2 separate regions of the Homo sapiens genome follow, and region 2 is linked to region 1. The links come from fine-mapping of genetic effects on gene expression. A gene starts in region 1. The other region holds a variant in brackets. All regions are shown on one strand. Distances are from middle to middle.

Region 1 (16,197 bases):
TCTCATTCTGTTTCCCAGGCTGGAGTGCAATGGTGTGATCACAGCTCACTGCAGCCTCGACCTCCTGGGCTGAAGCAATCCTCTCACCTCATCCTCCTGAGTAGCTGGCACTACAGGCATGCATCACCACACCCAGCTAATTTTTTCATTTTTTGTGAAGAAGGGGTCTCCTTATGTTGCCCAGGCTGGTCTCAACCTTGTTACTTTTTAGTAGCTATTATCCCCCTGGATGGACATGTAGACCATTTAAAATCTTATATGCTACAATGTACTTCCTTGTACATGTATCTTTGCACTCATGTGTGACAATATTTGTAAGAGAAATCTTCCAAAGCAGAATTGCTGTGTCACAGGATATGGGCATCTTTAATTTCAGCAAATGTTGCCAGAGAGCCTTCTAGCGACTGCACCAGTGATACTCCTACAAAAAGATGAGAAGATGCCTTTTTAAAGCTATTTACTATTAAACTTTTAATCTTGGCTAATCTGATAAATGAAAAAATGAAATCTCATTGCTGTTTTGCTTTTATATAACCTTTTTTTTTTTTAAGAGACAGAGTCTTGGCCTGTCACCCAGGCTGAAGTGCAGTGTTGCAATCATGGCTCACTGCAGCCTTGAACCTGAGTAGCTGAGTAGCTGGAACTACCGATATGCACCACCATGTCTGGCTAATTTTTATTTTTATTTATTTATTTATTTTTGAGACAAAGTCTCGCTCTGTTGCCCAGACTGGAGTGCAGTCTCAGCTCACTGCAGCCTCCGCCTCCCAGGTTCAAGCAATTCTCATGCCTCAGTCACCCAAGTAGCTGGGATTACCGGTGTACCCCACCACACCCGGCTAATTTTTGTATTTTTTAGTAGAGACGGGGTTTCACCATGATGGCCAGGCTTGTCCCTAACTTCTGATCTCAAGTGATCTGCCCACCTTGGCTTCCCAAAGTGCTGGGATTACAGGCATGAGCCACCTTGCTGGGCCACGGCTAATTTTTAAATTGTTTTGTGGAGACAGGGTCTCACTATGTTTTCCAGGCTGGTCTCGAACTCCTGGGCTCAAGCAATCCTCCTACCTCAGCCTCCCAAATTTTGGGGATTATAGGCATGAACCACCATACCTGGCCTGCTGTTTCAGTTTTATTTCATGACCACCCTCGTTACAAGTAAGGTTGAGCATCTTTTCATATATTACAATTTATATTTCTTTTTCTTTGAACTACCTAATACTGCTCTTTGTCCATGTATATTTTGGGATGTTGGTCATTTTCTTATAGATCTGAGAGCTCTTTTTATACTACAGAACAGCATTTGCTTCTCATATGTGTTGAAAGTACCCTTCACAGTTCCATTACCTTCTGACTCTGGAGGTTTTGTCTTACACATATTTTTAATTTTTCTGGAGTCAGTTTTACTGTTCTTTTCCTTTATGTTTCTAGGTTTTCTATTTTCCTTTGTAACACCTTCTCTACTCTAAGATTATTTTTCATATTGCCTTCATTTTCTTCTATTGCCTTTACAGTTTCGTCTTCGACCTTTCTGGGATTCGTTGTGGGATAAGCCATGAGATAGATATCTGGCTTTGTTTTTCTCTAAATACTAACCAGTTGTCCTAATACCATAAAGTGCACAATTTCTCATTTCCTCCATTTATATGAAATCCTACCTTTATCCCACACATATCACCATCTTCCAGGTCCCTATTTGGATGTCCTGACCTCCTAGAGTGGTTGGAAGAACAAATGAAATCATATTCATGAAAACACCATGGAGTCATCACAACTTGCTAATGTTGTAAGGTGGCATGTGATGGTTACTTGCACAAGCCCATCAGAAAGGACACCTCAGGGAGCGTCAGCTCCCCTCACCAACACCCCAACACTGGTGGCCAGGAGATGACTGTCTTTGGTGATTTAGACCTTGAGAGTAAAGTCAAATTGTGCCCAGCAGGGAGGCAGCATAGTGTGGCATGAAATGAACACACGCCGGGTTTGTGTCCCAGCTCTGCCACCCATGGCTGGGACCTCAGTCAAGTCATCAAACCTCCCCAGTGAACAGGTCACACCTCTTGAAAATGACAGTGTGGGTCAGGACTACCTTTCCTTCAGGTAGTCCTCAGTAATTTATATAGTGCTTTCACGGGATTGATGTAACCTGCCCAAAGCCACAGGGCTATTTAGACATGAATCTTCTCTCAAATCAGCAGGTGCTTCCCATCACACCACACCACCCTTTCTCAGTCCTAAGGACTCTGTACCCTCCAAGACTGAGTCTAGCTGAGGCGTCAGCCATCTAAGGAGGAATTCAAAACTCTGTGGCCTTGGGACTAAAAAGAAGAGTCTGATTTATTTCGCAATGTCACCCTCCAAAAAAGAAGGTGGAAACTAGGAGGGTCTGGCTTAGTCCCTTTGCAGAGTTTCAAAGCAGCCATTCCTTGGCTTATCAAGCAGCTTCTCAAGCAAGAGAGAAGGCTGCTGAGCAAACCCTGCTGGGAGGTTACAGAGGGCTTGTGGGCTGGGGAGTCAGCAGAGGGGTTCAAACCCAGCCTCGTTGTTCCCTAGCAGCACCCGGACTCCCTGAAGTAAAACTGAGGGCTCTGGTGTCTGCTCTTGGTGGTGGTAGGCGGCTGCATCCTCATGGGACACAGAGCCTGGCACATGACTCCGCTCTGCTATTCCCCACTCTGAGAAGCAATGACACTGCTGACAGCAGCAGACAGACCCTCTGCAGTAGGGAAATCCATCAGGTGACCTTGAGAAAGGACAGGACACATTGAGAGACATTCTACAAAATAACTGGTCTGTACTCTTCAAAAGTGTTGAAGTCACAAAACTCCAAGAATGACAGAAGAACTATTCCAGACAAAGGAGACCGAAGAGGCACAACAACGGAATGCAAAGCCTAACCCAGGATTTTCTTCTGCTATAAATGACATTATTGGGACAGTTGATGAAATCTGCATAAAATCTGTGGGTTGGATAACAGTATTGAAATGGTGTTCATGTCCTGGTCTTCATAATTGTATTGGTTACGTAAGAGAATGTCCTTGTCTTTAGGAAATACACACCAAAATATTTAATAATGTAATATCTGCAACTTACTCTCAAGAGTTCAAAAAATATATATTTGTCTATCTATCTGTCTATATCATCTATCTGTCCACTGATCGAGAAGGATAAAGCAAATGCAGTAATAATTTAGGGAATCTGGATAAAGGATATATGGAAATTCTTCTTTTTATTCTTGCAATCTTTTTGTAAATCTGAAATTATGCCTAAATGAAAAGTTTGTGGGTTTTCTAAAAAGGGATGAGACAGAAAGCAAGCAGCACCAGGGCCACAAGTCAGGGTGAGAGGGCAATGGCCCCAGGCACCCGGCAGAGGCAAGAGAGCAGTTTAGGGCCAGCTGGCTGAAGGGGCATGTGGGGCTCCATGGAGATTTCACCCACTCACCTTTTGATGCATCCATCATCCCTTCAGATTCTCTCCTGCAATGCCAGGGAAGACTCTATCTCTGATGCCTGGTGCTTCCACACAGTCGGTCCTCAGGGGAGGAAACAGCCCTTTTTATGTGATCCTGGGCTAGATGTGGCCTTGCTATGGCTGCCAAGGGGCGGGGTTTGGGAAGGCGATGTTGATTAGAAATAATAAAATCCCGGAATCTTCCATATCAGACCCAGGAAATCAGGAGCCAAGATGAGCTGATGTAAAAGGGACAGACAACGGACAATGGCACCTCCTTGTCTGTTATATGAGCCTAACAGTGGGTGACCAAAAGCCAGGACCCTATGACCTACACCACATGTGGCCTGACATTCTGGTTACTATCAAGCTTAAGTCTAGGAACCCAGGCTAACCTTTACTGACTTTAGGGTTTTCTTCTTCTTCTCTTTTCTTCAAGTTGAAAAAGTAAGAGATGCTTGTGAGTTTTTTGTTTTACATTTTGAATATATAATGCATCCACATGGTTCAAAATGGAAAAAAATGCCCCCTGTCCACCTTGTTGAATCCTACTACCAGTTTCTTTTAGATCTTTCCAGAGATGTTGTATGCACTGAGAAGCAAATAATGTACTATTATTATTATTTTGTTATTTAGTTTTTATTTCATAATCATAAACTTAACTCTGCAATCCAGCTAGGCATGGAAGGGAACAAGGAAAACATGGAACCCAAAGGGAACCGCAGCGAGAGCACAAAGATTCTAGGATACTGGGAGCAAATGGGGTGGAGGGTGCTCCCCTGAGCTACAGAAGGAATGGTCTGGTGGTTAAGATAAAACACAAGTCAAACTTATAAGAGCTGTCCACAGTCAGCAATGGTGATCTTCTGGCCGGTCTTGCCATTCCTGGACACAAAGCACTCCATGGCCTCCACAATATTCATGCCTTCACCTTGCCAAAGACCACAAGCTTGCCATCCAACCACTCAGTCTTGGCAGTGCAGATTAAAAACTGGGAACCATTTGTATTGGGTCCAGCATTTGCCATGGACAACATGCCAGGACCTGTATGCTTTAGGATGAAGTTCTCATCATCAAATTTCTCCCCATAGATGGACTTGCCACCAGTGCCATTATGGCGTATGAAGTCACCACCCTGACACATAAACCCTGGAATAATTCTGTGAAAGCAGGAACTCTTATAACCAAATCCTTTCTCTCCAGTGCTCAGAGCACAAAAGTTTTCTGCTGGCTTTGGAACCTTGTCTGCAAACAGCTTGAAGGAGACGCAGGTCTAAAGGCTTGCCGTCAACGGTGATGTTGAAGAACACGGTGGGGTTGACGATGGCTGATGTTACAGGGCTCCTGGCGGCAGTGGCATCTGCAAAGCAAATAATGTATTATTTTGTTTTATTTACACAATGAGAGCATATCACTGCATTGCCCAGGCTGGTCTGGAATGCCTAGGCTCAAGGGATCCGCCCCACCTTCACCTCCCAAAGTACTGGGATTACAGGTGTGAGCCACCACGCCTGGCAAGATGGAGCTGTTCCTATTGCACATGGAGAGGTGGCCCAGTCTTTTCACAGCTGCACATATTCTGTTTGTGTGGATGGTCCCTAATTTATGTAACTCACCTCCCACCCATAGGCATCTGGGTTGCTTCCAATATTTCCTTATTACAATCAGTGTTGCAAAGAATAAGGTTATACAGAGATCATTTTACCCTCACATGAGTGTATCTATAGGAAGAATTGAATGCCTTGAAGTGGAAATGTTGGGCCAAAAAGCATAAGCTTTTGTAATTTTAATGGCTATCTGCTCTGCTCTCCACAGGGGCACTTGTGGTATTTTTCAATGATGTTATGTCTACTGAAAGGAGCCAGCCTGGCATAGTAGCAGAAATGCCAGAGGAAGAGAGGAGACTCCTGACACTGAAACCCCAACACCACAGTAACTTGCCGTGTGTCACTGGGAATGTTGTCTTCATTAGCTCCTTACCTGAAAAGTGAGGGGGCTGAATAATGATGCCAACGGTCTCTTCCAGACCAAAAGCCCAGGGATGGGCAATTGCCTTTGCTGGCTTTAAGGCAAGCCAGAGAGCAATGACCCTGGTTACTCTGAATAACAATAATGAAGTCAGAGGTTTTTGCTGTTCTGCAGGCAAGCATCTCAGCACCGCATCCCTAAATATAATAGAACAAACCAAGCCCTGAAGTGCACATGGCATTTACGAAAAGTCTTGGCTGGGTTCTGTCTGCAGAGAAGCCCTAGGCCCTATGATTACAGGCTCAGGAGTGGGAGAAGGATGCTTGCTTTTCTCTGTATTTCCTTTTACATCATCAGAATTTAGCACCATGTGCATGAATTACCTATTTAAGAATAAATTCACTACTTAAATGGAAAAAGCCTCTAAATAAAAGTCCTGGCCTAGGGGTGAGAGGGTCCGGGTTTTAGTTGCTTCACCTCTCTGAGCTTCTTTCATCATTTTTGACAAATAAGGGGCTTGTGCAAGATGAGCTTTCGCCAGTGCCTTCCAGGCCAGAGAATCCAGGGTACCAGAGTGAGTATAAAAGTGTCTAAAAGAAATAGACTTTGGGTCAGACAGAACTGGGCCTACATCCTGGGTCCTCTACAGATCCACTGTGTGACCTTGGGAAGTTACTTCTCTGTGCCTCTGTTTCTTCATCTGGGAGGTGGGAAATAATAACACCCACGCCACAGGTCAAGTGTCTGAAGCAGGATGCTGTGAAGAGGCAAAGGCATTCAAAATTCTCTGCAAGAAATGAGTTACACCGCGGACCTTACAAAGGACCCCCCCCATCCCAACAACCTCATTTCACAGCTGGAAAAAGTGCAGCCTAGAGAGAGGCAGCCACCTGGGCATCAGGAGAGGATCCCCGTGAGCCTCCCTTCCCTCTTCCTGCAGCAGAACTTCCGGGCCTCAGCAGAGTCGGCCCTTATTTAGTTCCTTGTGCATGTGGCATTTTATCTGTCAGCTGGTCCCAAAGGATCATCTTTTCTCATGTTTCCTGTCTGGGGCCACAGCTGACACCATGGTCTAGTCACAGGCCACTGGGGCCATCAGCATCCCCCTCCCCCACCAGCTGCTGAACTGCAGCCACTGTATTGCACTAGCACCTGGTGGCCAACTCCAGGCATATTGGGATCAGAGGCAGCCCACTCAAGACCCTCTGCTCTCTGCTCTCCAAGAGGACCAGACACAGGCCCCACCATGGGACAGGAGGCTCTGAATGTGCTGTCCCAGAAAAGTTGGCATGGTCTACACTTCACATTAATCCACAGATGATGGAGCTGGGGAGGAGGGAGAAAAGGAAAAATCAGGCAAGAAGAGCCTGAAAACCACCAGGTAAGGTGGGGAACAGAAGACACGTTTCAAGATGAAGTTCATAGAGGACCTTAGCCAGGAATGGAATCTTCTCATTTTGTGTCCCTAGCCCATAGCATGGCACAGAGTGCTCAGCAGATGAGGGAATGCATGAATAAATGAACAAATAAGCAAACAGGACAGGGTGCTCAGGTGGAAGCCTGGGAGCGGCCCCATGCCTGTGCCTGTGGGGCAGGTGCCTCCTGCAGAGGTCAGGGGAGGCTGTGTCCTCTTCTCCCAACGCATGCTGGGAGTCCCTTTTGGAAGGAAAGCCCAATACACATTGGTTTTGGGGATTCAAGCCTAATCCCTGACCCACCTCTGCATCCACCCCCCAATTCTGAGGATGAAAGAACAACTGAGGCCCTGTTGGACTCTAGGCACCACAGCTGCTGTTCATGGTGCTAAGCTCGGAGCTAAATCATAAAGATAGGCATCCTGATGCATCCCCGCCCCCTTTTTTTGTGTGGAGACAGGGAGGAGTTAGTAAATACGCATCCACAGATTTGTGGGAGCAAAATCTTTTCTTCTTATATCTGAAACTATAAATTCATCTCTCATCTGACTCCTATTATATATGTAAACAACTTTATAGGAGAAAAATAAAAGAATCCAATAAACCCCGAAGTCACCTCTTTTTAAGCCACTCCTAGCGCTTGCCATTGTACACAAATGTGTTTACACTGCATGGAGCAAACCTGGCACTTCAGGCCATGCCTGGCAGGCTGCCTTGTGGACACTGTCTAGGATCCGCCTATTTCAAATGCTCACCCCTGTTCGTGGGCACGTGATATTCTACCATATTTGCCTAACCATTTCTCAACTATCAGGCAACTAACTGCTGCTAGCAGTAATGCAGCTAGGAACCCTGTTGCCTAAATTGTGTATTTTTTTCTTTTGAATTTTCCCCCTGGTGTAGCATTAGGTCTAACTGCATAGGGGACTGACTTTTAAACTCTGGTGAGGGGCTACCCTGTGAGGGACCATGCTGGTGACAGTCAGGACTCACTGCTGCAGGCCTCCAGGCAAGAAGAACTTTGGGGACCCTATTGAAGACCAGCAAGGGAACACGGAAGCAGTACAGACAAGACAGGCTCTCAGCCAGGCTATCTGGGGTCCCATCTCAGCTCAATCTATGACAAGTTGAGTGGATTTGGGGGAAATCTGAGCCCTCCAAGCCCTTGTTTCCCAAAGGAACTGGATGGCTCTGGAATTTGGAGTAATAATTATCTGCCCAGTCCAGCCCTGGAGCCAATTCCACTGGAACCAACATGGTCTGTCTCACCTCCCACCCTAACCTATCTGATTCACCACACCTCCAGACTCTGGGCTGGGCCCTGCTATTCCTTATCCAGGCCCAAAGAGCCCAGAGCACACATCGGCTAGCAAAGACGATCTTGGGGTTTTCTTGCTAAACAACAGCAGTAAGATTTGTATGTCTAATGATTGTTAAATGTGATCGTTCCCATTTATCAGTGAAGTATTGTCTAAAAACATTTATGAAACCTTACAAAAATTCAAAAAAAAACAGCAATGAAAACTTACATCTCCCTCATCAAGTTCAAGAAATAAAACTTATGGGTTATAACTGAAGCTCTCAGCCCCTTATATATCCCTTCCCAACCCCAATTTCCTTTCCTCCCTCCCCAAAGTAACCACCACTCTGAGTTTGGTATTTAAGTTCCCTTGCATATTTAAAAATACTTACTAAACGTGAATATCTAAAATAATAAGTAGTATTGAAGGTTTTAAATTTTTTTGTAAAATTATCATACTTAACACTCCCTTCTACTTTTTTTCACTCTACATTATGATTTTGAGATTTTTTCATGTAATTTTTCCATGTAATTCATGCTTGTCACCACTGTATAGTGTTCAATACACTGTATGCTATAACTTCTCTATTCTCCCATTGATATTAGATTGTTTTACATTTTTCTCAGTTATAAACACTGCTGCAACAAGCATGTGTGTTCATGTCTCCTTGTGCACAAGTGAGAGTTTCCAGGACTGGAATTGCTGGCTCAAACAGTAGGCACATCTTCTGTTTTGTCAGATGATAGTAAAATGTTTCCAGAGGGTTATACTAATTTATACTTCCAGCAGTAGCACATGGGAATTCACAGTGATCCACAACATTGGCCTTGCTTGTTCAACTTTGTAACTTTTGCCAATCTTGTATGAAATGGCATCAATGGCATCTTACTGAGTTCCCCCTAGCTTTATTGAGGTATAGTTTATATCCAATAAAATTCACCCACTTTAAGTATAGAATGTTAGTTTTATACAGTTGTGTAATGACCACTATGATCAAGATGTAGAAAAGAGCCATCATCCTAAAAAGTTCCTTCTTGCCCTGATTCCCAGCCCTAAGCAACCACTGATCTGCCTTCTGTCACTGAAGTTTTGCCTTTTTTTCTTTTTAATTACATATAAATGGAACTATATGGTATATATTCTTTTTGGGTCTGGCTTCTTTCACTTAGCATAATTATTTTATGATTCTCCTTGTGATAGCATGTATCAATACTCTCTTCCTTTTTACTGAAGAGTAGTATTCCATAGATGAATATGGATGGCCATTTGGGTTGTATCAGTCAGCTCATGCCGCCATAACAAATACCACAGACTGCATGACCTAAACAACAGATATTTATTTTCTCACAGTTCTGCAGGCTGGGAAGTCCATGATCAATGTGCTGGCAAATTCAGGTTCTGATGAGGGCCCTTTTCCTGGCTTGCCTTCTCTCCTTCTTGCTATGTCCTCAAATGACCTCTCCTCTGTACATGTTATCTCATATTGTATCATAGTTATATCAGCAATTCCATTCCTAGGTATATACCCAATAGAATTGAAAACATGTTCACACAAAAACGTGTACACAATTGTTCAAAGCAGCATTATTCTAATAGAAAATTAGAATAGAATAGAAAAGGGAAACAAGCCAAATGTCTATCAAAAGATGAATGTATAAACATAATGTGGTAGATCCACACAATGGAGTATTATTCAGTCATAAAAAGGAATGAATAACTGATTCATGCTACAACATGAATGAGCCTTGAAAACACTATGCTAGGTGAAAAAAGACCCAAAAGGCCATATATTGATGTTGTATAATCCATTTATATGAAATGTCCACAACAGGCAAATCTATAGACAGAAAGTGGATCCTTGATTGCCATGGGCCTGGGGGAGGATGGAATACAAAATGACTGCTAATGGGTATGAGAATTTCTTTTGGAGTGATAAAAATGTTCTGGAATTAGCTAGCGGTAATGGTCGAAAACTTTGTGAATCTACTAAAATACTACTGAATTGCACACTTTTAAAAAGAGTAAGTTAAAAAATAAAATTAAACGAAAGGAATGACCTATCAGGCCTTTGAACCTGGATGTCAAATTGCCAGCTCCAAGCAAACAAAGTTCAATCCATCATCCAAGATGCACACCAAAAAGACAAATATTGATATAGTATTGATATAGTTTATTCTTATCAATAAACCTCTGAAATGAGGAAAATAAATACAGTGAACGTTTCCTCAACTTTTTAGATGACTATAGAGTTGTATCTTCCTGCTTTTTGAAGAATGACTGATCTTCCTCTTAGAAAAAATCTTACATCTTGTACAAATATACGTCTTCTACAAATACATCTTGTACATCTTGTACAAATACAGGCATATTTGTTGAATTGAGTGATAGGGTTCCACGTCAACACCAACCATCTCTATGCATTAAGCAAGTGTCTGGATGGGAGGCCAGGTCCTCTCAGGACAATGCTTGCTCCAAGATGGACTTCTTTCTGCCCTTTTCACTAACTGCCCAGGGAGGCCGACCACCAGCTATCAGCAGCCTTCAGGTCTGGCCTTGGCTGGGTGTCTGACCCATATGGTGAACACACCCTGGAAAGCCTTGAATATCCTTCAGCTTCTTCACTGGTAGAATGGTGGGGTCAGACTAGATCAGGGAGATCAACACTAGAGCCCCTAAGAAAAGGTAGGTGGCTGGTGACCAAAGGGTTCTGAGGTTTGGGCATGCTGAGTCACAGTATGGAACAGGCCCCTTACTGCAGGGCCTCTCTGAGTTTTCAGGTGTTGGTGTGGGAAGCAGGACAGAGGTAGGGACTGAGCTGAGCCCAGTCAGATCGGGCTGACATTGTGGTTCTGGCACTCCTCAGCTGTGTGATGTCAGGCAAATTATTCCACTTCCCCAAGCCTTAGTTTCCTCACCTCTAATACAGGAACAAGAGTAACTCCCTCACGGGTTGGCTGGGAGGCAATGTGTCAAAGTGGAGCTAAATGATTAACATTCTGTGAATTACAGCTTTGTCCTGGCCCCCATGGGAGCTCAAGGGTTTTGAAGAGCAGGAGTTTGCCAGCGAGAGGTGAAGGTAAAGGGAACCCAAGGCAAGGGTAAGAGCAAGTACAAAACATGTTGGCAGGACTGGACATGGTGGATTTGAGAATGGCTGACCTGCAGATGTCTGGGGGGACTCAGCATGGTGGGGCTAGCATGAGGGAGATGGGTACTAAGGAGTCATTGCGGAAGAGAACTCTTGTTGGAGTGGTGGGCTAGGGCCAGATCCCCATCAGAAGGAGCCGTGGAATGGTTTTAGTAAGCTCATTCTGTCAATTGTGCTGACCACAGTAAGGGAGGAGAGCAATGAAGGTGCTACATGGGCGAGGAGGAGGGTCTGGACAAGACCCTTCGCTCTCCTAGCCTCCTGGCTACCAGGTCCCTCTCAACTGCAGGAAATGTATGAAGAAGACTTGGGGCCAGAGATCAGACTCAGGAGAGCTGAGAGGGCCCTCGGACACCCCAGGGGAGAAGTGAGGCAGGTAAGTGCCGGGCTTCAGGCTCTGTGCTGGGAAAGTGTGCAGGCAGCACACAGCCCACTTTGAACTAGGAATTACATTCACATGGTCTAAGATACAAAAAGAACAAGGGGGCCAGGTGCAGTGGCTCACGCCTGTAATCCCAGCACTTTGGGAGGCTGAGGCGGGCAGATCACGAGGTCAGGAGATCGAGACTATCCTGGATAACATGGTGAAACCCCATCTCTACTAAAAATAAAAAAAATTAGCTGGGCATGGTGGCGGGTGCCTGTAGTCCCAGCTACTCGGGAAGCTGAGGCAGGAGAATGGCGCGAACCCGGGAGGCAGAGCTTGCCGTGAGCTGAGATTGCGCCACTGCACTCCAGCCTGGGTGACAGAGCGAGACTGTCTCAAAAAAAAAAAACCCAAAAAAACAAAAAAACAAAAAACAAAAAAAAACCAAAGGGGAATCTGAGAAAGAAAAGCAAATGACAGAAGAGCCCTAAAGGTAAACGCTAGAGGAACAGAGTGGCAGGGAATGGAGGGACCTCTGAACCACTTTCTTTCCCAAGTAAAACAAGGTCTCCAAAGGGAGGTCAAACTTTTCTCCTTGAGAGCACCAGGAGAATGAACAGACCCTGTGCAGTTCAAAGAGCCTTAGCCTGTGTGACCTCAGGAAGTAACCACAAGATCAAGCTCTAGCAGGTGTCAGAGCAACCGAAGCCACAAGGCTTCTGTACCTGCCTCACTCTCCTGCCTCCTCCACATTGGGATTTCAGCTCACTCTGGCTCCCTCTTACTCCAAAGGGAAGGAAAGAATTAAGATACCGTACCTGGTAGTTTTAACTTACAAAAAACGTATTTATTAATCCAGTTTTCCTCTTCTTGCCATAATACATAAGCATGACACAGATGGCCTGATACATCAGCATGGAACTGTCAGAAAGCCCCACCAGTCACTGCTTCTAGAGTTACATGACTGGCTTTTGTTTGGCAACAGGACAATAATTACAGCGTGGTTTCAAGTACCATACACAAAGCAGACCAACCCCAGGATCTCCAGCATCTGCGAAGGCTCACTGGGGTAGGCCTGGGAGGAAGAATCCAAAGCACTGTACAGATGATCAAAACACTTCCGGTAGAACACTGCTGCAGCTGCACCTCTCCTTACAGAGCCAGAGCCTGCTCCATCAGAGGCCTGCTTCCCTTGGCTGATGGTCAGAAGGCTGCACAACTGGATCGCCCTAGGATACAGTCCCACATGACATCCCAAGGCTGGGCCACCATCATGATCTTTCCAGCTGGTCCGTCTAGCCAAGTGGTGCTACTGCTGCTTGTGTGGAAGGGGCTTCCAGGTGGGTGGGAGCTTCCTGTGGATTAGGGTGAGTCCGCAGAGAATAAGGAACACTCCTCCCCACCACAAGACCTCCTGGCACTCTCCATACAGCACATAGCCCAGGAAGGCCTGCGAGACAAAGATAGCTGTGAGGGACTCAACTTCAGCAGGTGGGCACAACCTCACTCTCCTGGGACTGACTTCCTTCTAAGGGTGCCAGGAGGAAAGGTCTGGAGCCAGAAGCCTTGGGCTTGAAACCTAGCTGTCACCTTCATCAAGTCACTCTATTCAATCTCCCCTGCATGAGTGGAGAGGCTACCTCCCTCACTGCACTGGACCTCAGCAAAGTACACAAGAAAGACCCAGCAGATGCCAGCAGGTAGACACAGCAGGTACATGGTATTTGTTTCTCCCTCAACTCAAGATTGACTACGCTCAGCTCCATCTTGTCAACCTCAGACTACACAGGGCAGAAAAGTTTCTGGGAATCCCAACCCTCTAAATGCCATGGAGCCTTGAGTACACAGAACCCTAGGAAACAGCTAGGATGCACAGTGACTTCAGAATGAGGGCTCCACCCTGGAGGAACAGCAAGCAAGTAGGCTTTTTACTGTCAGGCTTCACTCATATCTAACTTAAGAATTCTTCCATGATTAGAATTACATTTGCTCCATGAATAGAGCACTCATCCAGGGGTCAAGCCACAGCCCAACCTCTGCTTCAGTTCCTGTCCTTTCTCCTGTCTGGGAAAGGAGGGGTTATCCAAAGACAACTCACCCAGAACCCAGATTTAGGACAAGAGCACCACACCCTCAGGCTACTCACCGAGCTGAGGATATTTGAAAAAGTCACTGTGACAGATGCAATGGCTGAAGACATGGAGAAACTGAGGCCCCGGCTAAAGAAGGTCCACATCAGAGAATTGGTGCTCGCCATCACAATAATGCCTAAGACGCATAAACCCATGCTCACCTGCAGGAGAAAGTGTCACTGCAGCCACGTCCACCCTGGGCAGCAACCTGCAGACCCCCTCAAAGCACACCCAGGACTGTGGTTGCTGGCACCCAGGCTCCTACTGAGCTCCCACTACAGCTCAGAGGGCCTCAGAGCTTTCCTGCACAGGGCTTCACTTAACCCTCAGTGGGCAGCAGACCCATCTTACAAATAAAGCAAATTCAGAGAAGATACTCATTTGGCCACCTTGCTGGCCATATGATCTTGGGAAGAAGCAAAATGCTAATCCAAAGCCAGTATTTTCTACTGAACACCGGCCCCTTATTGGTCCCACAATGACCAGTGCTTGAAGATCAGTCCCAGAGGGCCAAGTAGTTCTTACTCCGTAGGTAGTAAGCCTAGGGTAGAGTTCTTATTTCTTGAGATCAGGCAAAGCATGAATTAGCAATGTCTGCTCTGTATTCCCACCCCCAAATCCTATACAAGTTACAGCCCACTAAGGCTGACCCCCTCTGGGTATTCTTGAGCTTTTACTCTGTGTTAGGTCCTGGGCTGTGTTTAAGCATTCTCATTTATTCCTTAACTTCATTTTACAGATAAAGAGCCAGGGGCATTAAGTAACCTTCCTAAAGTGCTACAGCGGTGAGAGCCACCAGGCTTCACAAGCAGGCAGTGTACCTCCATGCTCTTAACTAGGGCACAGCCTTGCCTGAGGGAAACACCACCTCAGACTATTTAGTGATCCCAGACATCCCTTGGAGAACTTGCAGGTATTTTCTTTCTTTTTTTTTAAAGGAGAAAGTCTCAAGAGAAGAGAAGATCTTTAGAAGCCTCCTACACAAAGGATATGCAGTCCCCCTTGCTTGGTGGTGAGTTAGAAACCTGCCTGGAGACAAGGCGGCGGGGGGGGGGGGTGCGGAATCTAAATATACTTATTACTTGTAATGGTTTCTCAGCAGCTGAACACATAGTGTCTTGAGAAAAAGGTGCTTGCTTATAACTTACACCAGGGTGTTCAATTTTTTGGCTTCCCTGGGCCACACTGGAAGAACTGTCTTGGGTCACACATATAATACACTAACACTAATGATATATGATGAGCTAAAAAAAAAATAATAAATCGCAAAAAAATTCATGTTTTAAATTTGCAAATTTGCGTTGGGCCGCGAGTTGGACAACCTTGTCTTACACAAAGCAGCATATGGGCCAGTGGCAACCTGCTTAAAGGGTTATGAAGGTCTAGTTCCTGACAACAAACTTCACGGCCCATACAAAGTTATTCATTTTACTTTCGACCACTTACCCCATGAACTACACCCAATGGGATACTAACCTGAAGCATGGCAGCTACTACTGGATTAGCCCTAAATAGGCTTAACCCTAAATAATCAGTGACCACTGTCCAGGTCAGAGGCTAACCTTGGGCTGCAGACGCAATGAAACCCCTATAGCAAGCAGAGGCTGGTCTACGACGTGGGAGGGAGAGGCAGAGATACACCTTAGCAGACGCCAGGATGCAAGTTTAGGAGTTCTCAGCGTCAGGAAAACATCCAGAACGTCTCTGTCAGTATCCTCTTATGCCTACAGTATCCCAAACTCCCAATTTTCCTGGTAGTGGGGCAGACTGGTCATCTGGTCACAACACCCGTTAATTACGGAGTAAAGGGATGGGCAAGAGGCTTCTCACCTTAAGAGTCACGTGGAGAGAAATGCTCAGGCACAAGGGACTTAAAATGAGAGGTAGAGGGTGGATGTAGGAGGTGTAGTTCTTCCCCGAGAGCGAACTAGCCCAACCGGAGAAAAGGTTTTAGGTCCCTGGTAAGGGAAGAGGCCTCAGTCCCCGACGTCTCTTACCACCTACACTGGACGAGGGTTTGGCGTGATTAGAGGCGAAACACTCTCTGCCACCCCAGCTGACCGCAGCGCCGCCCGCGGCCCGGGGCCCCGGCGGGACAGACCGGCGAGGGTGCGGCGGCGCCCTGCGCCCACCCCCGCCCCACCCCAAGAGCCCCGCGGGCCCCGCAGCGCCCCTCCTCCGCCCAGCGGCGCCCCGCCCGCCCGCCCGCAGCAGCAGCACCAACAGCGCCCCGGGCTCGACCTCGCTGCCGAAGGCCAGCTTGGCGGAGGCGGCGGCCAGGGCCCCGAACGCGCCGGCGCACAGACAGTTGAATACGCCCCAAAAGCGGCGCCGCATCGCACCCGCCTGGAGGTGCGGAGGGAATTCCGCGGGGGTGTCAGGGTACGCGGTCGCGGACACGGCGCCGCCCGGA
Region 2 (8,000 bases), 29 kb before region 1:
AGTGCAGTGGTGCGATCTCGGCTCACTGCAACCTCTGCCTCCCGGGTTCAAGTGATTCTCCTGCCTCAGCCTACCAAGTAGCTGGGATTACAGGCACGTGCCACTATGCCCAGCTAATTTTTGTATTTTTAGTAGAGATGGGGTTTCACCATGGCCAGGATGGTCACAATCTCCTGACCTCGTGATCCACCCACCTCAGCCTCCCAAAGTGCTGGGATTACAGGCATGTGCCACCATGCCTGGCCAAGAATCTGCATTTTTTAACAATCACCCCCAGGTGATTCCAGCACAGATTGTCCAAGGCCAAATGTTGAAAAATATTGAATTTCAGGAACAGTGAGCACTGGCCTACAACTTGAATCAGTCTCTGAGGGAGGCTGAAGGGGCCCCACAGCTCAGCAGAATCTCTGGGTTGGGAGGGCCTGGAGACTGGGCTTGGGCTAAAAAACTCCTGGGATGCCACGCATGGTGGCTTGCACCTGGAATCACAGCTACCTGGGAGGCTAAGGCAGGAGGACTGCTTGACACCAGTTCAAGACCAGCCTGGGCAAACTAGCGAGAGACCCTGTTTCTAAAAAGAAAAAAGAAAATTCCTGGGAGAAGGAGACAGGGCAGGTTGAGAAGGAGGAACCCTACCAGACAGAGTCGTGGGTCATACTGGTGATTTTCTCGCCATTCTCATTCACATAGGTGTCCACCGTGAGGTTCCTTTCTGTGTCGTGAGCTGAATCGAAGCCTGTCACACTGCGTGCTGGGATGCCCAACGCTCTCAGCACTGAAATGATCCAGGGTGGGGTGGTTGGCAACTGTGGGGGCTGGGAGTCCCTCCCTTGGGACCTCTCCCCTCAGCCCCTGGATCTGCCACTTACCTGTAGTCAGGATCCCAGCAAACACCCAGCACTGGCCAAAGCACACAGCCTGCTTCGTGTTGTAGTACTGCTGCAGGATCGGGGCACTGCCTGTCCACTTGTATGGGGCTGTGCCACCTTCGTAGTCCCCAGTCCAATTCCCAATGAGCACGCCCTGGCCTTTCTCAAAGCTCATCTGCCACACACGTAGGGGTGGGGTCAGTGTCCGCCCCTCAGAAGAACAAGGTGCTGCCAGCCCAGCTTGGCCACCCAGCCCCCAAAGTGGACACCTCATAATGTCTCAGAGTACTTGGAGGACGTGGGCTTTCCAGAACAGGTGGGGTGCCCAGAAGGGCCAAGGAGCATGCCAGCTGTTTGAGTGACCGGGGAGGATGCTCACTGCTGTATGCCTCAGTTTCCTCCCTTGTAAAATGATGATCATTACAACACCTACCTTTAGGTTGGTTTTGTTTGTTTTTTGAGAGAGGATCTTGCTCTGTAGCCCAGGCTGGAGTACAGTGGTGTGAGCTCGGCTCACTGCAGCCTCAACTTCCTGGGCTCAGGTGATCCTCCCACCTCAGCCACCCAGGTAATTGGGACTACAGGCGCACGCCACCACACTTGGTTAATTTTTGTAGTTTTTTGTAGAGGCAGGGTTTCACCATGTTGGCCAGGTTGGTTTCAAACTCCTGAGCTCAAGTAATCCAACTGTCTCAACCTCCCAAAGTGCTGGGATTACAGGTGTGAATCACTATGCCCGGTCCCTTTAGGTTGTTTTGAGGATGACCTGGGTTAAGCCTATGCCTGTTTTGGCATCTTCCGTTTTTAAATTGTCAGTGGCCTGCACCTCTCTTAACCCCTGAGGAGCCCTGGCCAGACGATCCTTTCCACCTTATTAAAACCAGAGAGAGGACAAAGCCTTGTGAGTTCACCTTTGAAAGCACTTAATGGAATCTCTAAAGAAGGTTGTACAGGCAGGTGCAGAGGAACCCTCCGAAAACATGAAAGGTGACACAGTCACAAATCTTTGATCTGGTGGTGGCCTGGCTTTGACCACATCCACCCATCCCCTCCTGGCCTGCACACTAACGTCCTTTGCAAACCTCATCATGCCTTGTGAAAAGCACAGTTACAGTGCCTCATGTTTCCCAGGATGTTAAAGATGTCCGTTTGTTTAACTAAAACCCTTATAGTATGCTACAATTTCTGAATCCTGTTTGGGAGTTTGTTCAGTTTTAATTTACAAGAAGTCTCAAACAATGGTGTGGCCTGGGCCTCCCGTGACCTCTCAGGTCCTGTGGCTGGACAAGCCTCTTCATTCATCAAAATCAGAGAGAGAGCAGAGGCCACCGCCAGACTCAAGAGTGGTCAGACGGAATGAAAACAGATGAAAGAGAGACAGGCAAAGGGTCCTAGGCAAAGCAGGAAATACCTCCCATCTTAACTGTCACCCAGCCACTGCCCTGGTCCGGCTGCTGCGTCCTCCTGCGAAATTAAGCGGCCCCAGCCTGTCAGCGCCTGCTAGACACAAGCCGTCTATAGAGCAATGTAGGGGAGGGCGGAGATAGGGAAAGAAGGGGAGTGACGCTGAGCCCAAAGGACATCAGGACTTTCAAAACTCCTGATGCACGAGGCTCTATCCCCCTGCGGAACAAAGCACATTTCTGTGCCCAGGCATGGTAGGCAGTCACCGAGATGGTCCCCAGTAATCCCCTCTCCTAGACCCAGTGACTCACTTCTAACCAACAGAATGCAGCAAAAGTGATGGCTGTCACTTCTGAAATGAGGTGACAAAGGCTGTGGCTTCCAGCCTGGGCACCCCCTCTCTTATTTGCTCACTCTGATGGAAGCTGGCTGCCATGCTATGAGCTGCCCTGACCTGAGGCTGCTCGCAGCTAGGTGAGTGAGCCTGGAAGTAGGTCCTCCCCCAGAGATCTTCAGCCAGAACATTCAGCTAAACCACACCTGGATTCCTGACCCACAGACATGGGAGATAATGGATGTTTGTTGTTTCAGCCACAGTGTCTTGGGGTAACTTATTACTTAGCAATGGATAATGAACGCACTCACTGCTGCGCCGAGGTTCCCTGCCTGGTGTGGGAGTCGTCTTTAGGCGACCCTGCCAGAAGCTCTGCCTGCTAGTCAGAAATTCACAGATCCAGGAGGCCCATGGATAGCCACGAATTTCTAAGGGTGAAGGGGCAACCTTTATAGGGAACCTGGAAAAGGGGAGGGCCTCTGAAGTGGGCTGGGGTTCTCAGACTCCCGAGCGTGGAAGCTAATCTGCAGTAACCTAATTTTGGAAGTGACTCCTGGAACACCTTGGAGTTCTGAATTGCCCATGCTTGCCTCACAGCCTGAGGAGGTGGCTGGCAGGGCACTAGGAAGGAGCACTGCACCAGGAGTCAGCACAGCTGGCTCAACCACCACTTCACTGTGCAGCCTTTGGCGAACTGCCCCTTCTCCCCCGGCTGGTTTCCTCATCACTGAAACAAGCAGCGGCTTAGCCCATTGCTTCCCAAACCCCACCACGCATAAGAATGACCTGGGAATAGGCTACTCGTGGGCCCAAAGCGTGTCAGACCCTGGGCTGGGCACTTGTTGTGTGT[T/C]ATTGAGACCTCATAATCACCCAAAAGATGAGATAACAGAGGCCCAAAGAGGTTTAGAATCTTGTCCAGAGTCATGGAGCTTGAAAGGAGAAGCAGCCAGGTACGTGCCAGTCCACCTGCACCACTGAGAACTAGAGCCCCTCATGGCAAGTTCTGCCTGCTAATGACTTGGTCTCCTTTACTTGTTCTTTCTCAGCATCCAGCCTGGCCACCTGCTGGCCCCTGGGCTAGAGAATGAACATACCAGCATGGGGGTGAAGGGGAAAGAGCAGGCATGGTGGACTCCTGGGCCCCAGAGAGTCAGCGTGAGGGCCCCCGGTAATCCCATCAGCCCCTAAGGTGCAGGGGAACAGGAGCCCCAGCATTTATGAGGCATACCACGTGCAACAGACACAGGCTCACAGCCACTCTGCAAGGAGGGCATTTCAAGAGCCCCTACTTAAGATCCGTCTGTCGCAGCAGTTCAGCTCACAGACTCACCTGGAGATGAACATACGTCTGCCTGCCACCCACAGATGGCAAGAGCAGCCAGTTGGCTGAACTCAGTGGACCTTTGGAGAGTGGTCCTCACTGGCATTGGGAGATCCCTGGGAGTTCCAAGTTCTGTGATCAAAACTACTTGCATAATAATCCCAAGGTAATATTTGCCTTCTTCACTCTCATTCTCTCATAAGTGTACAAAGGATGAAAAATCGTGGTTTCAGATTCCACATTGCAACCAACTTTAAGAAACTGCCACTTACAGAGCTTCAGTATAGTATCTTCCATTATCTGAAAAGGCTATGGGAATATTCCTGCCCCCGCCCCGCTTCTTTTTTTTTTTTTTTTTTGAGACAGAGTCTCGCTCTGTCACCCAGGCTGGAGTACAGTGGTGCGATCTTGGCTCACTGCAACCTCTGCCTCTCGGGTTCAAGTGATTCTCCTGCCTCAGCCTCCCCAGTAGCTGGGACTACAGGTGTGTGCCACCACACCCAGCTAATTTTTTGTATTTTTAGTAGAGATGGGGTTTCACCATGTTAGCCAGGATGGTCTCGATCTCCTGACCTCGTGATCTGCCTGCCTCGGCCTCCCAAAGTGCTGGGATTACAGGCCTGAGCCACCACGCCCGGCCGTCCTCTGCCTTTTTAAATCTACGTATCCGTGTGAGGCCAGATGTTCATATATTCCAACTAAAACAATGAATGCAGAAGCAGATATGAAATTCCAGCTGACTTCTAGCAAGCCAGACATTAAAGAGATTTGCAAAAATGGAAAACAATGCCACTCTTCTCACTACATATTTTATGCTTCGAAAAACATAGGTTTTTAAAAATAAAAATACGTTATTTATGTTAACATGTAATGGAATTATTCTTTTAGAATAAATAGTTTTAACCTTTTCAGTTTTAATTTCTAATACAGTAAATATTGGTAAATATAAACCATATAAATACAACTTATTTGGGGTCCTTAATAATTTTTAAAAGTGCAAAGAGGTCTTGAAACCAAAATATTTGAGAACTGCCACTCTGAACAAACTGACTTCCAAGTGGCCAGGCAGAATAGAGTGACCAACCATCCTGTTTGCCCAAGACTGAGGGGTTTCCTGGAACACAGTATTCTTAGTGCTAAAACCAGAAAAGTCCCAAGTGAACTGCAACAGTTTGCTCACCCAACTGGAGCCCAGCTTGCAGGTAGAAAGAGGACCTTCTGTATTAATATCATTTTGCAGATGGGGGAAACTGAGGCTCAGACAGTTGAAGCCATTTACACCTAACGTCAGCCCATAAGTGGCAGGGCTGGAGTTCAGACTCAGGTCTGACTTGAAAGCCGGGCGCGGTGGCCCACGCCTGTAATCCCAGCACTTTGGGAGTCCGAGGCGGGTGGATCACGAGGTCAGGAGTTCAAGACCAGCCTGGCCAAGATGGTGAAACCCCGTCTCTACTAAAAATACAAAAAATTAGCCGGGCGTGGTGGCATGTGCCTGTAATCCCAGCTACTCCGGAGGCTGAGGCAGAGAATTGCTTAAAACCTGGATGGGTGGAGGTTGCAGTGAGCCAAGATCGTGCCACTGCACTCCAGCCAGGGTGACAGAATGAGACTCTGTCTCAAAAAAAAAAAAAAAAAAAAAGAAAAGAAAACCTGCGCTCAGAACAGATTTCAGCAATGTCTATTTCTTAATAGTTTTGAACAATTGATTGGCCATAGCACAGTGGTGTACTTCAAAGAGCTTACAGTTTAGATGAGGAAAAACAGAAAAAGGCTGAGCAATTGGCAAGTACAAGACAGCATCAGCCCAGGCTTTCCATACCTACCATAGCACACATGGCCCTGCACACCAGCACGGGGTCCCTCCTATCTGTGGGCTTGAGGGAGCTCTCAGTCAGCAGGGAAATGCAGCAGTCCAGGACATTTTTCTCAAACTATTTTGGGAAATGAAGAAAGAGGCAGTTAAGACTTTGCCCTGTGTCAGAAACTTAACACATACCATCTAATTTGCATGTCACAGCCACCCTGTAGCGTAACCCATCTCCCCTGCCTACAGTCTCATAAAAAAGTCCACCACAGCACTGAAAATTAGAAACCATTTAAATGTCCTGCCACAGGACAGTAGTTAAGTAAGTTTATAGAGCTCTAGCATGCAGCCACTAAAAGGAAGTATAAGAAGTTTTTAATACCATGGGGAAAATTCCTTTGTAATCAAGTCAAATAAATGAAACAGGCCGGGTGCGGTGGCTCACGCCTGTAATCCCAACACTTTGGGAGGCCGAGGCAGGTGGATCACCTGAGGTCGGATGCTCAAGACCAGCCTGACCAACATGGAGAAACCCTGTCTCTACTAAAAATACAAAATTAGCCGGGCGTGGTGGTGCATGCCTGTAATCCCAGCTACTCGGGAAGCTGAGTCAGGAGAATCGCTTGAACTCAGGAGGCGGAGGTTGCAGTGAGCCAAGATCGTGCCATTGCACTCCAGCCTGGGCAACAAGAGCAAAACTCTGTCTCAAAAAAATAATAATAATAAAAATAAATAAATAAATGAATAAATGAAACAGGCTACAAAATTGTGAACAAATAGCATTACAACTATGTAAGCCTTAGTAATAGATAATAGAATAAAATACACTAAAATGTTAAGTCATTATCACTGAGGGAGGAGGTTATGAATAATTTTATTTTCTTTCCACATTTCTGTGTTTCCTAAGTCTTTTGTGATAAGCACGTTACTTTTGAAATTCTATTTACTGTAAGCCACTTTATCAAGATATCATTTATATCTCATAAAATTTACCATCTAAACTGGATGATTCAATCTGTAATTATCCATAAATATCTGTATATTTACAGAGTTGAAGTACATGTGTTACTTTTGTAACCTGAGGGAAAAACTACCAAAATAAAAGGAATAGACCACAATGTTTATGTTCCAGAAGGAGTCTGGGGGAGTTTTGTGGTTACAATTCTTTGAGATTCTTTTTATTTTTATTTTATTTTTTATTTTTTTGAGAGAGGGTACAGTACAGTGGCACAATCACTGCTCACTGAAGCCTTAGCCTTCTGGACTCAAGTGATCCACCCACCTCCCTCTCCAACTGCAGTCCCCCCTCCCCACAGCTCTGCCTGGGACTATAGGCATGCATCACCATGCCCAGCTAATTTGTTTATTTTTTATAGAGACCAGGTCTCCCTATGTTGCCCAGGCTGGCCTTGAACTCCTGGCCTCAAGCCATCCTCCCACCTTGGCCTCCCAAAGTGCTGAGATTACAGGTGTGAGCCTCCATACCCAGTCACTCTTTGGGCTTCTTAAAATCACCGCTTGATTTTCTTTTTTTCTTTTTCAAGATGGAGTCTCACTCTGTCGCTCAGGCTGGAGTACAGTGGCGCCATCTCGGCTCACTGCAACCTCCGTCTCCCGGGTTCAAGTGATTCTCCTGCCTCAGCCTCCCAAGTAGCTGGGATTACAGGCACGTGCCACCACGCCTGGCTAATGTTTTGTATTTTTAGTAGAGACGGGGTTTCACTGTGTTAGCCAGGATGATCTCGATCTCCGGGCCTCATGATCTGCCTGCTTCGGCCTCCCAAAGTGCTGGGATTACAGGTGTGAGCCACCGTGCCCGGCCCACCCCTTGATTTTCTAAGAGGGGAAACTCCCTAGGATTCAGGTGATTCCTTCTTCCCTACCCCTCCTGCGGTTCGTTTGGCTGTCTCCTTGCCAGCTACTCCCTTCCATTTCATTTCCCTCTGGTCCTCATGTGTGAGGAGAGGATGCTGAGGGCCTTCTAGGAATGAGTGAGGGTGGAGAGGGCACTCGGCGCACCTTGCACAGAGCACACAGTGGGAGCCTCGCCAGCTGGGAGTCCTTCCTCCCTTGTCCCTACTTCCATCCTGTCCTAGGCGTCCAGACCCAGGGGGAGGAGGAGAAACTCAAGCAGCTGTGAAATGCCTGGCATTTCCCAGGAGTTTTTTGTTGTCAAATCTTGGGGGAGGGGAGGTGGGAAGCATCTGGTGTCTGGCATCCTCACACCCCAGCTTCTCTGCCTCATGGCTGCACGAAGGCATTGGCCCT

What was found. PIP is the estimated chance that this variant, and not a neighbour inherited with it, causes the effect.
Region 2: its variant is fine-mapped to the expression of TGM4 in testis (GTEx, PIP above 0.99).

The regions. Positions count from the first base shown.
Region 1 is chr3:44,861,945-44,878,141 of GRCh38, reverse strand. TGM4 (transglutaminase 4) reads right to left here and starts at 3,534. Exons shown (of 14, transcript NM_003241.4): 1 at 3,445-3,534. The coding sequence starts at 3,463. TMEM42 (transmembrane protein 42) reads right to left here. Exons shown (of 3, transcript NM_144638.3): 1 at 16,026-16,197; 2 at 13,799-13,945; 3 at 12,478-13,102. The coding sequence ends at 12,962. It overlaps MIR564 (microRNA 564), which reads right to left; the gene lies at 16,161-16,197. It also overlaps a transcript of KIF15 not described here and the pseudogene PPIAP18. RefSeq lists silencers at 15,721-15,770, 16,101-16,150 and an enhancer at 16,181-16,197.
Region 2 is chr3:44,894,568-44,902,567 of GRCh38, reverse strand. TGM4 (transglutaminase 4) reads right to left here. Exons shown (of 14, transcript NM_003241.4): 6 at 5,752-5,859; 7 at 870-1,044; 8 at 637-775. Among named protein-coding and RNA genes, the nearest start is that of TGM4, 24 kb to the right of the region's middle. RefSeq lists an enhancer at 3,479-4,020. The variant T/C (reference allele first, on the strand shown) is at 3,458.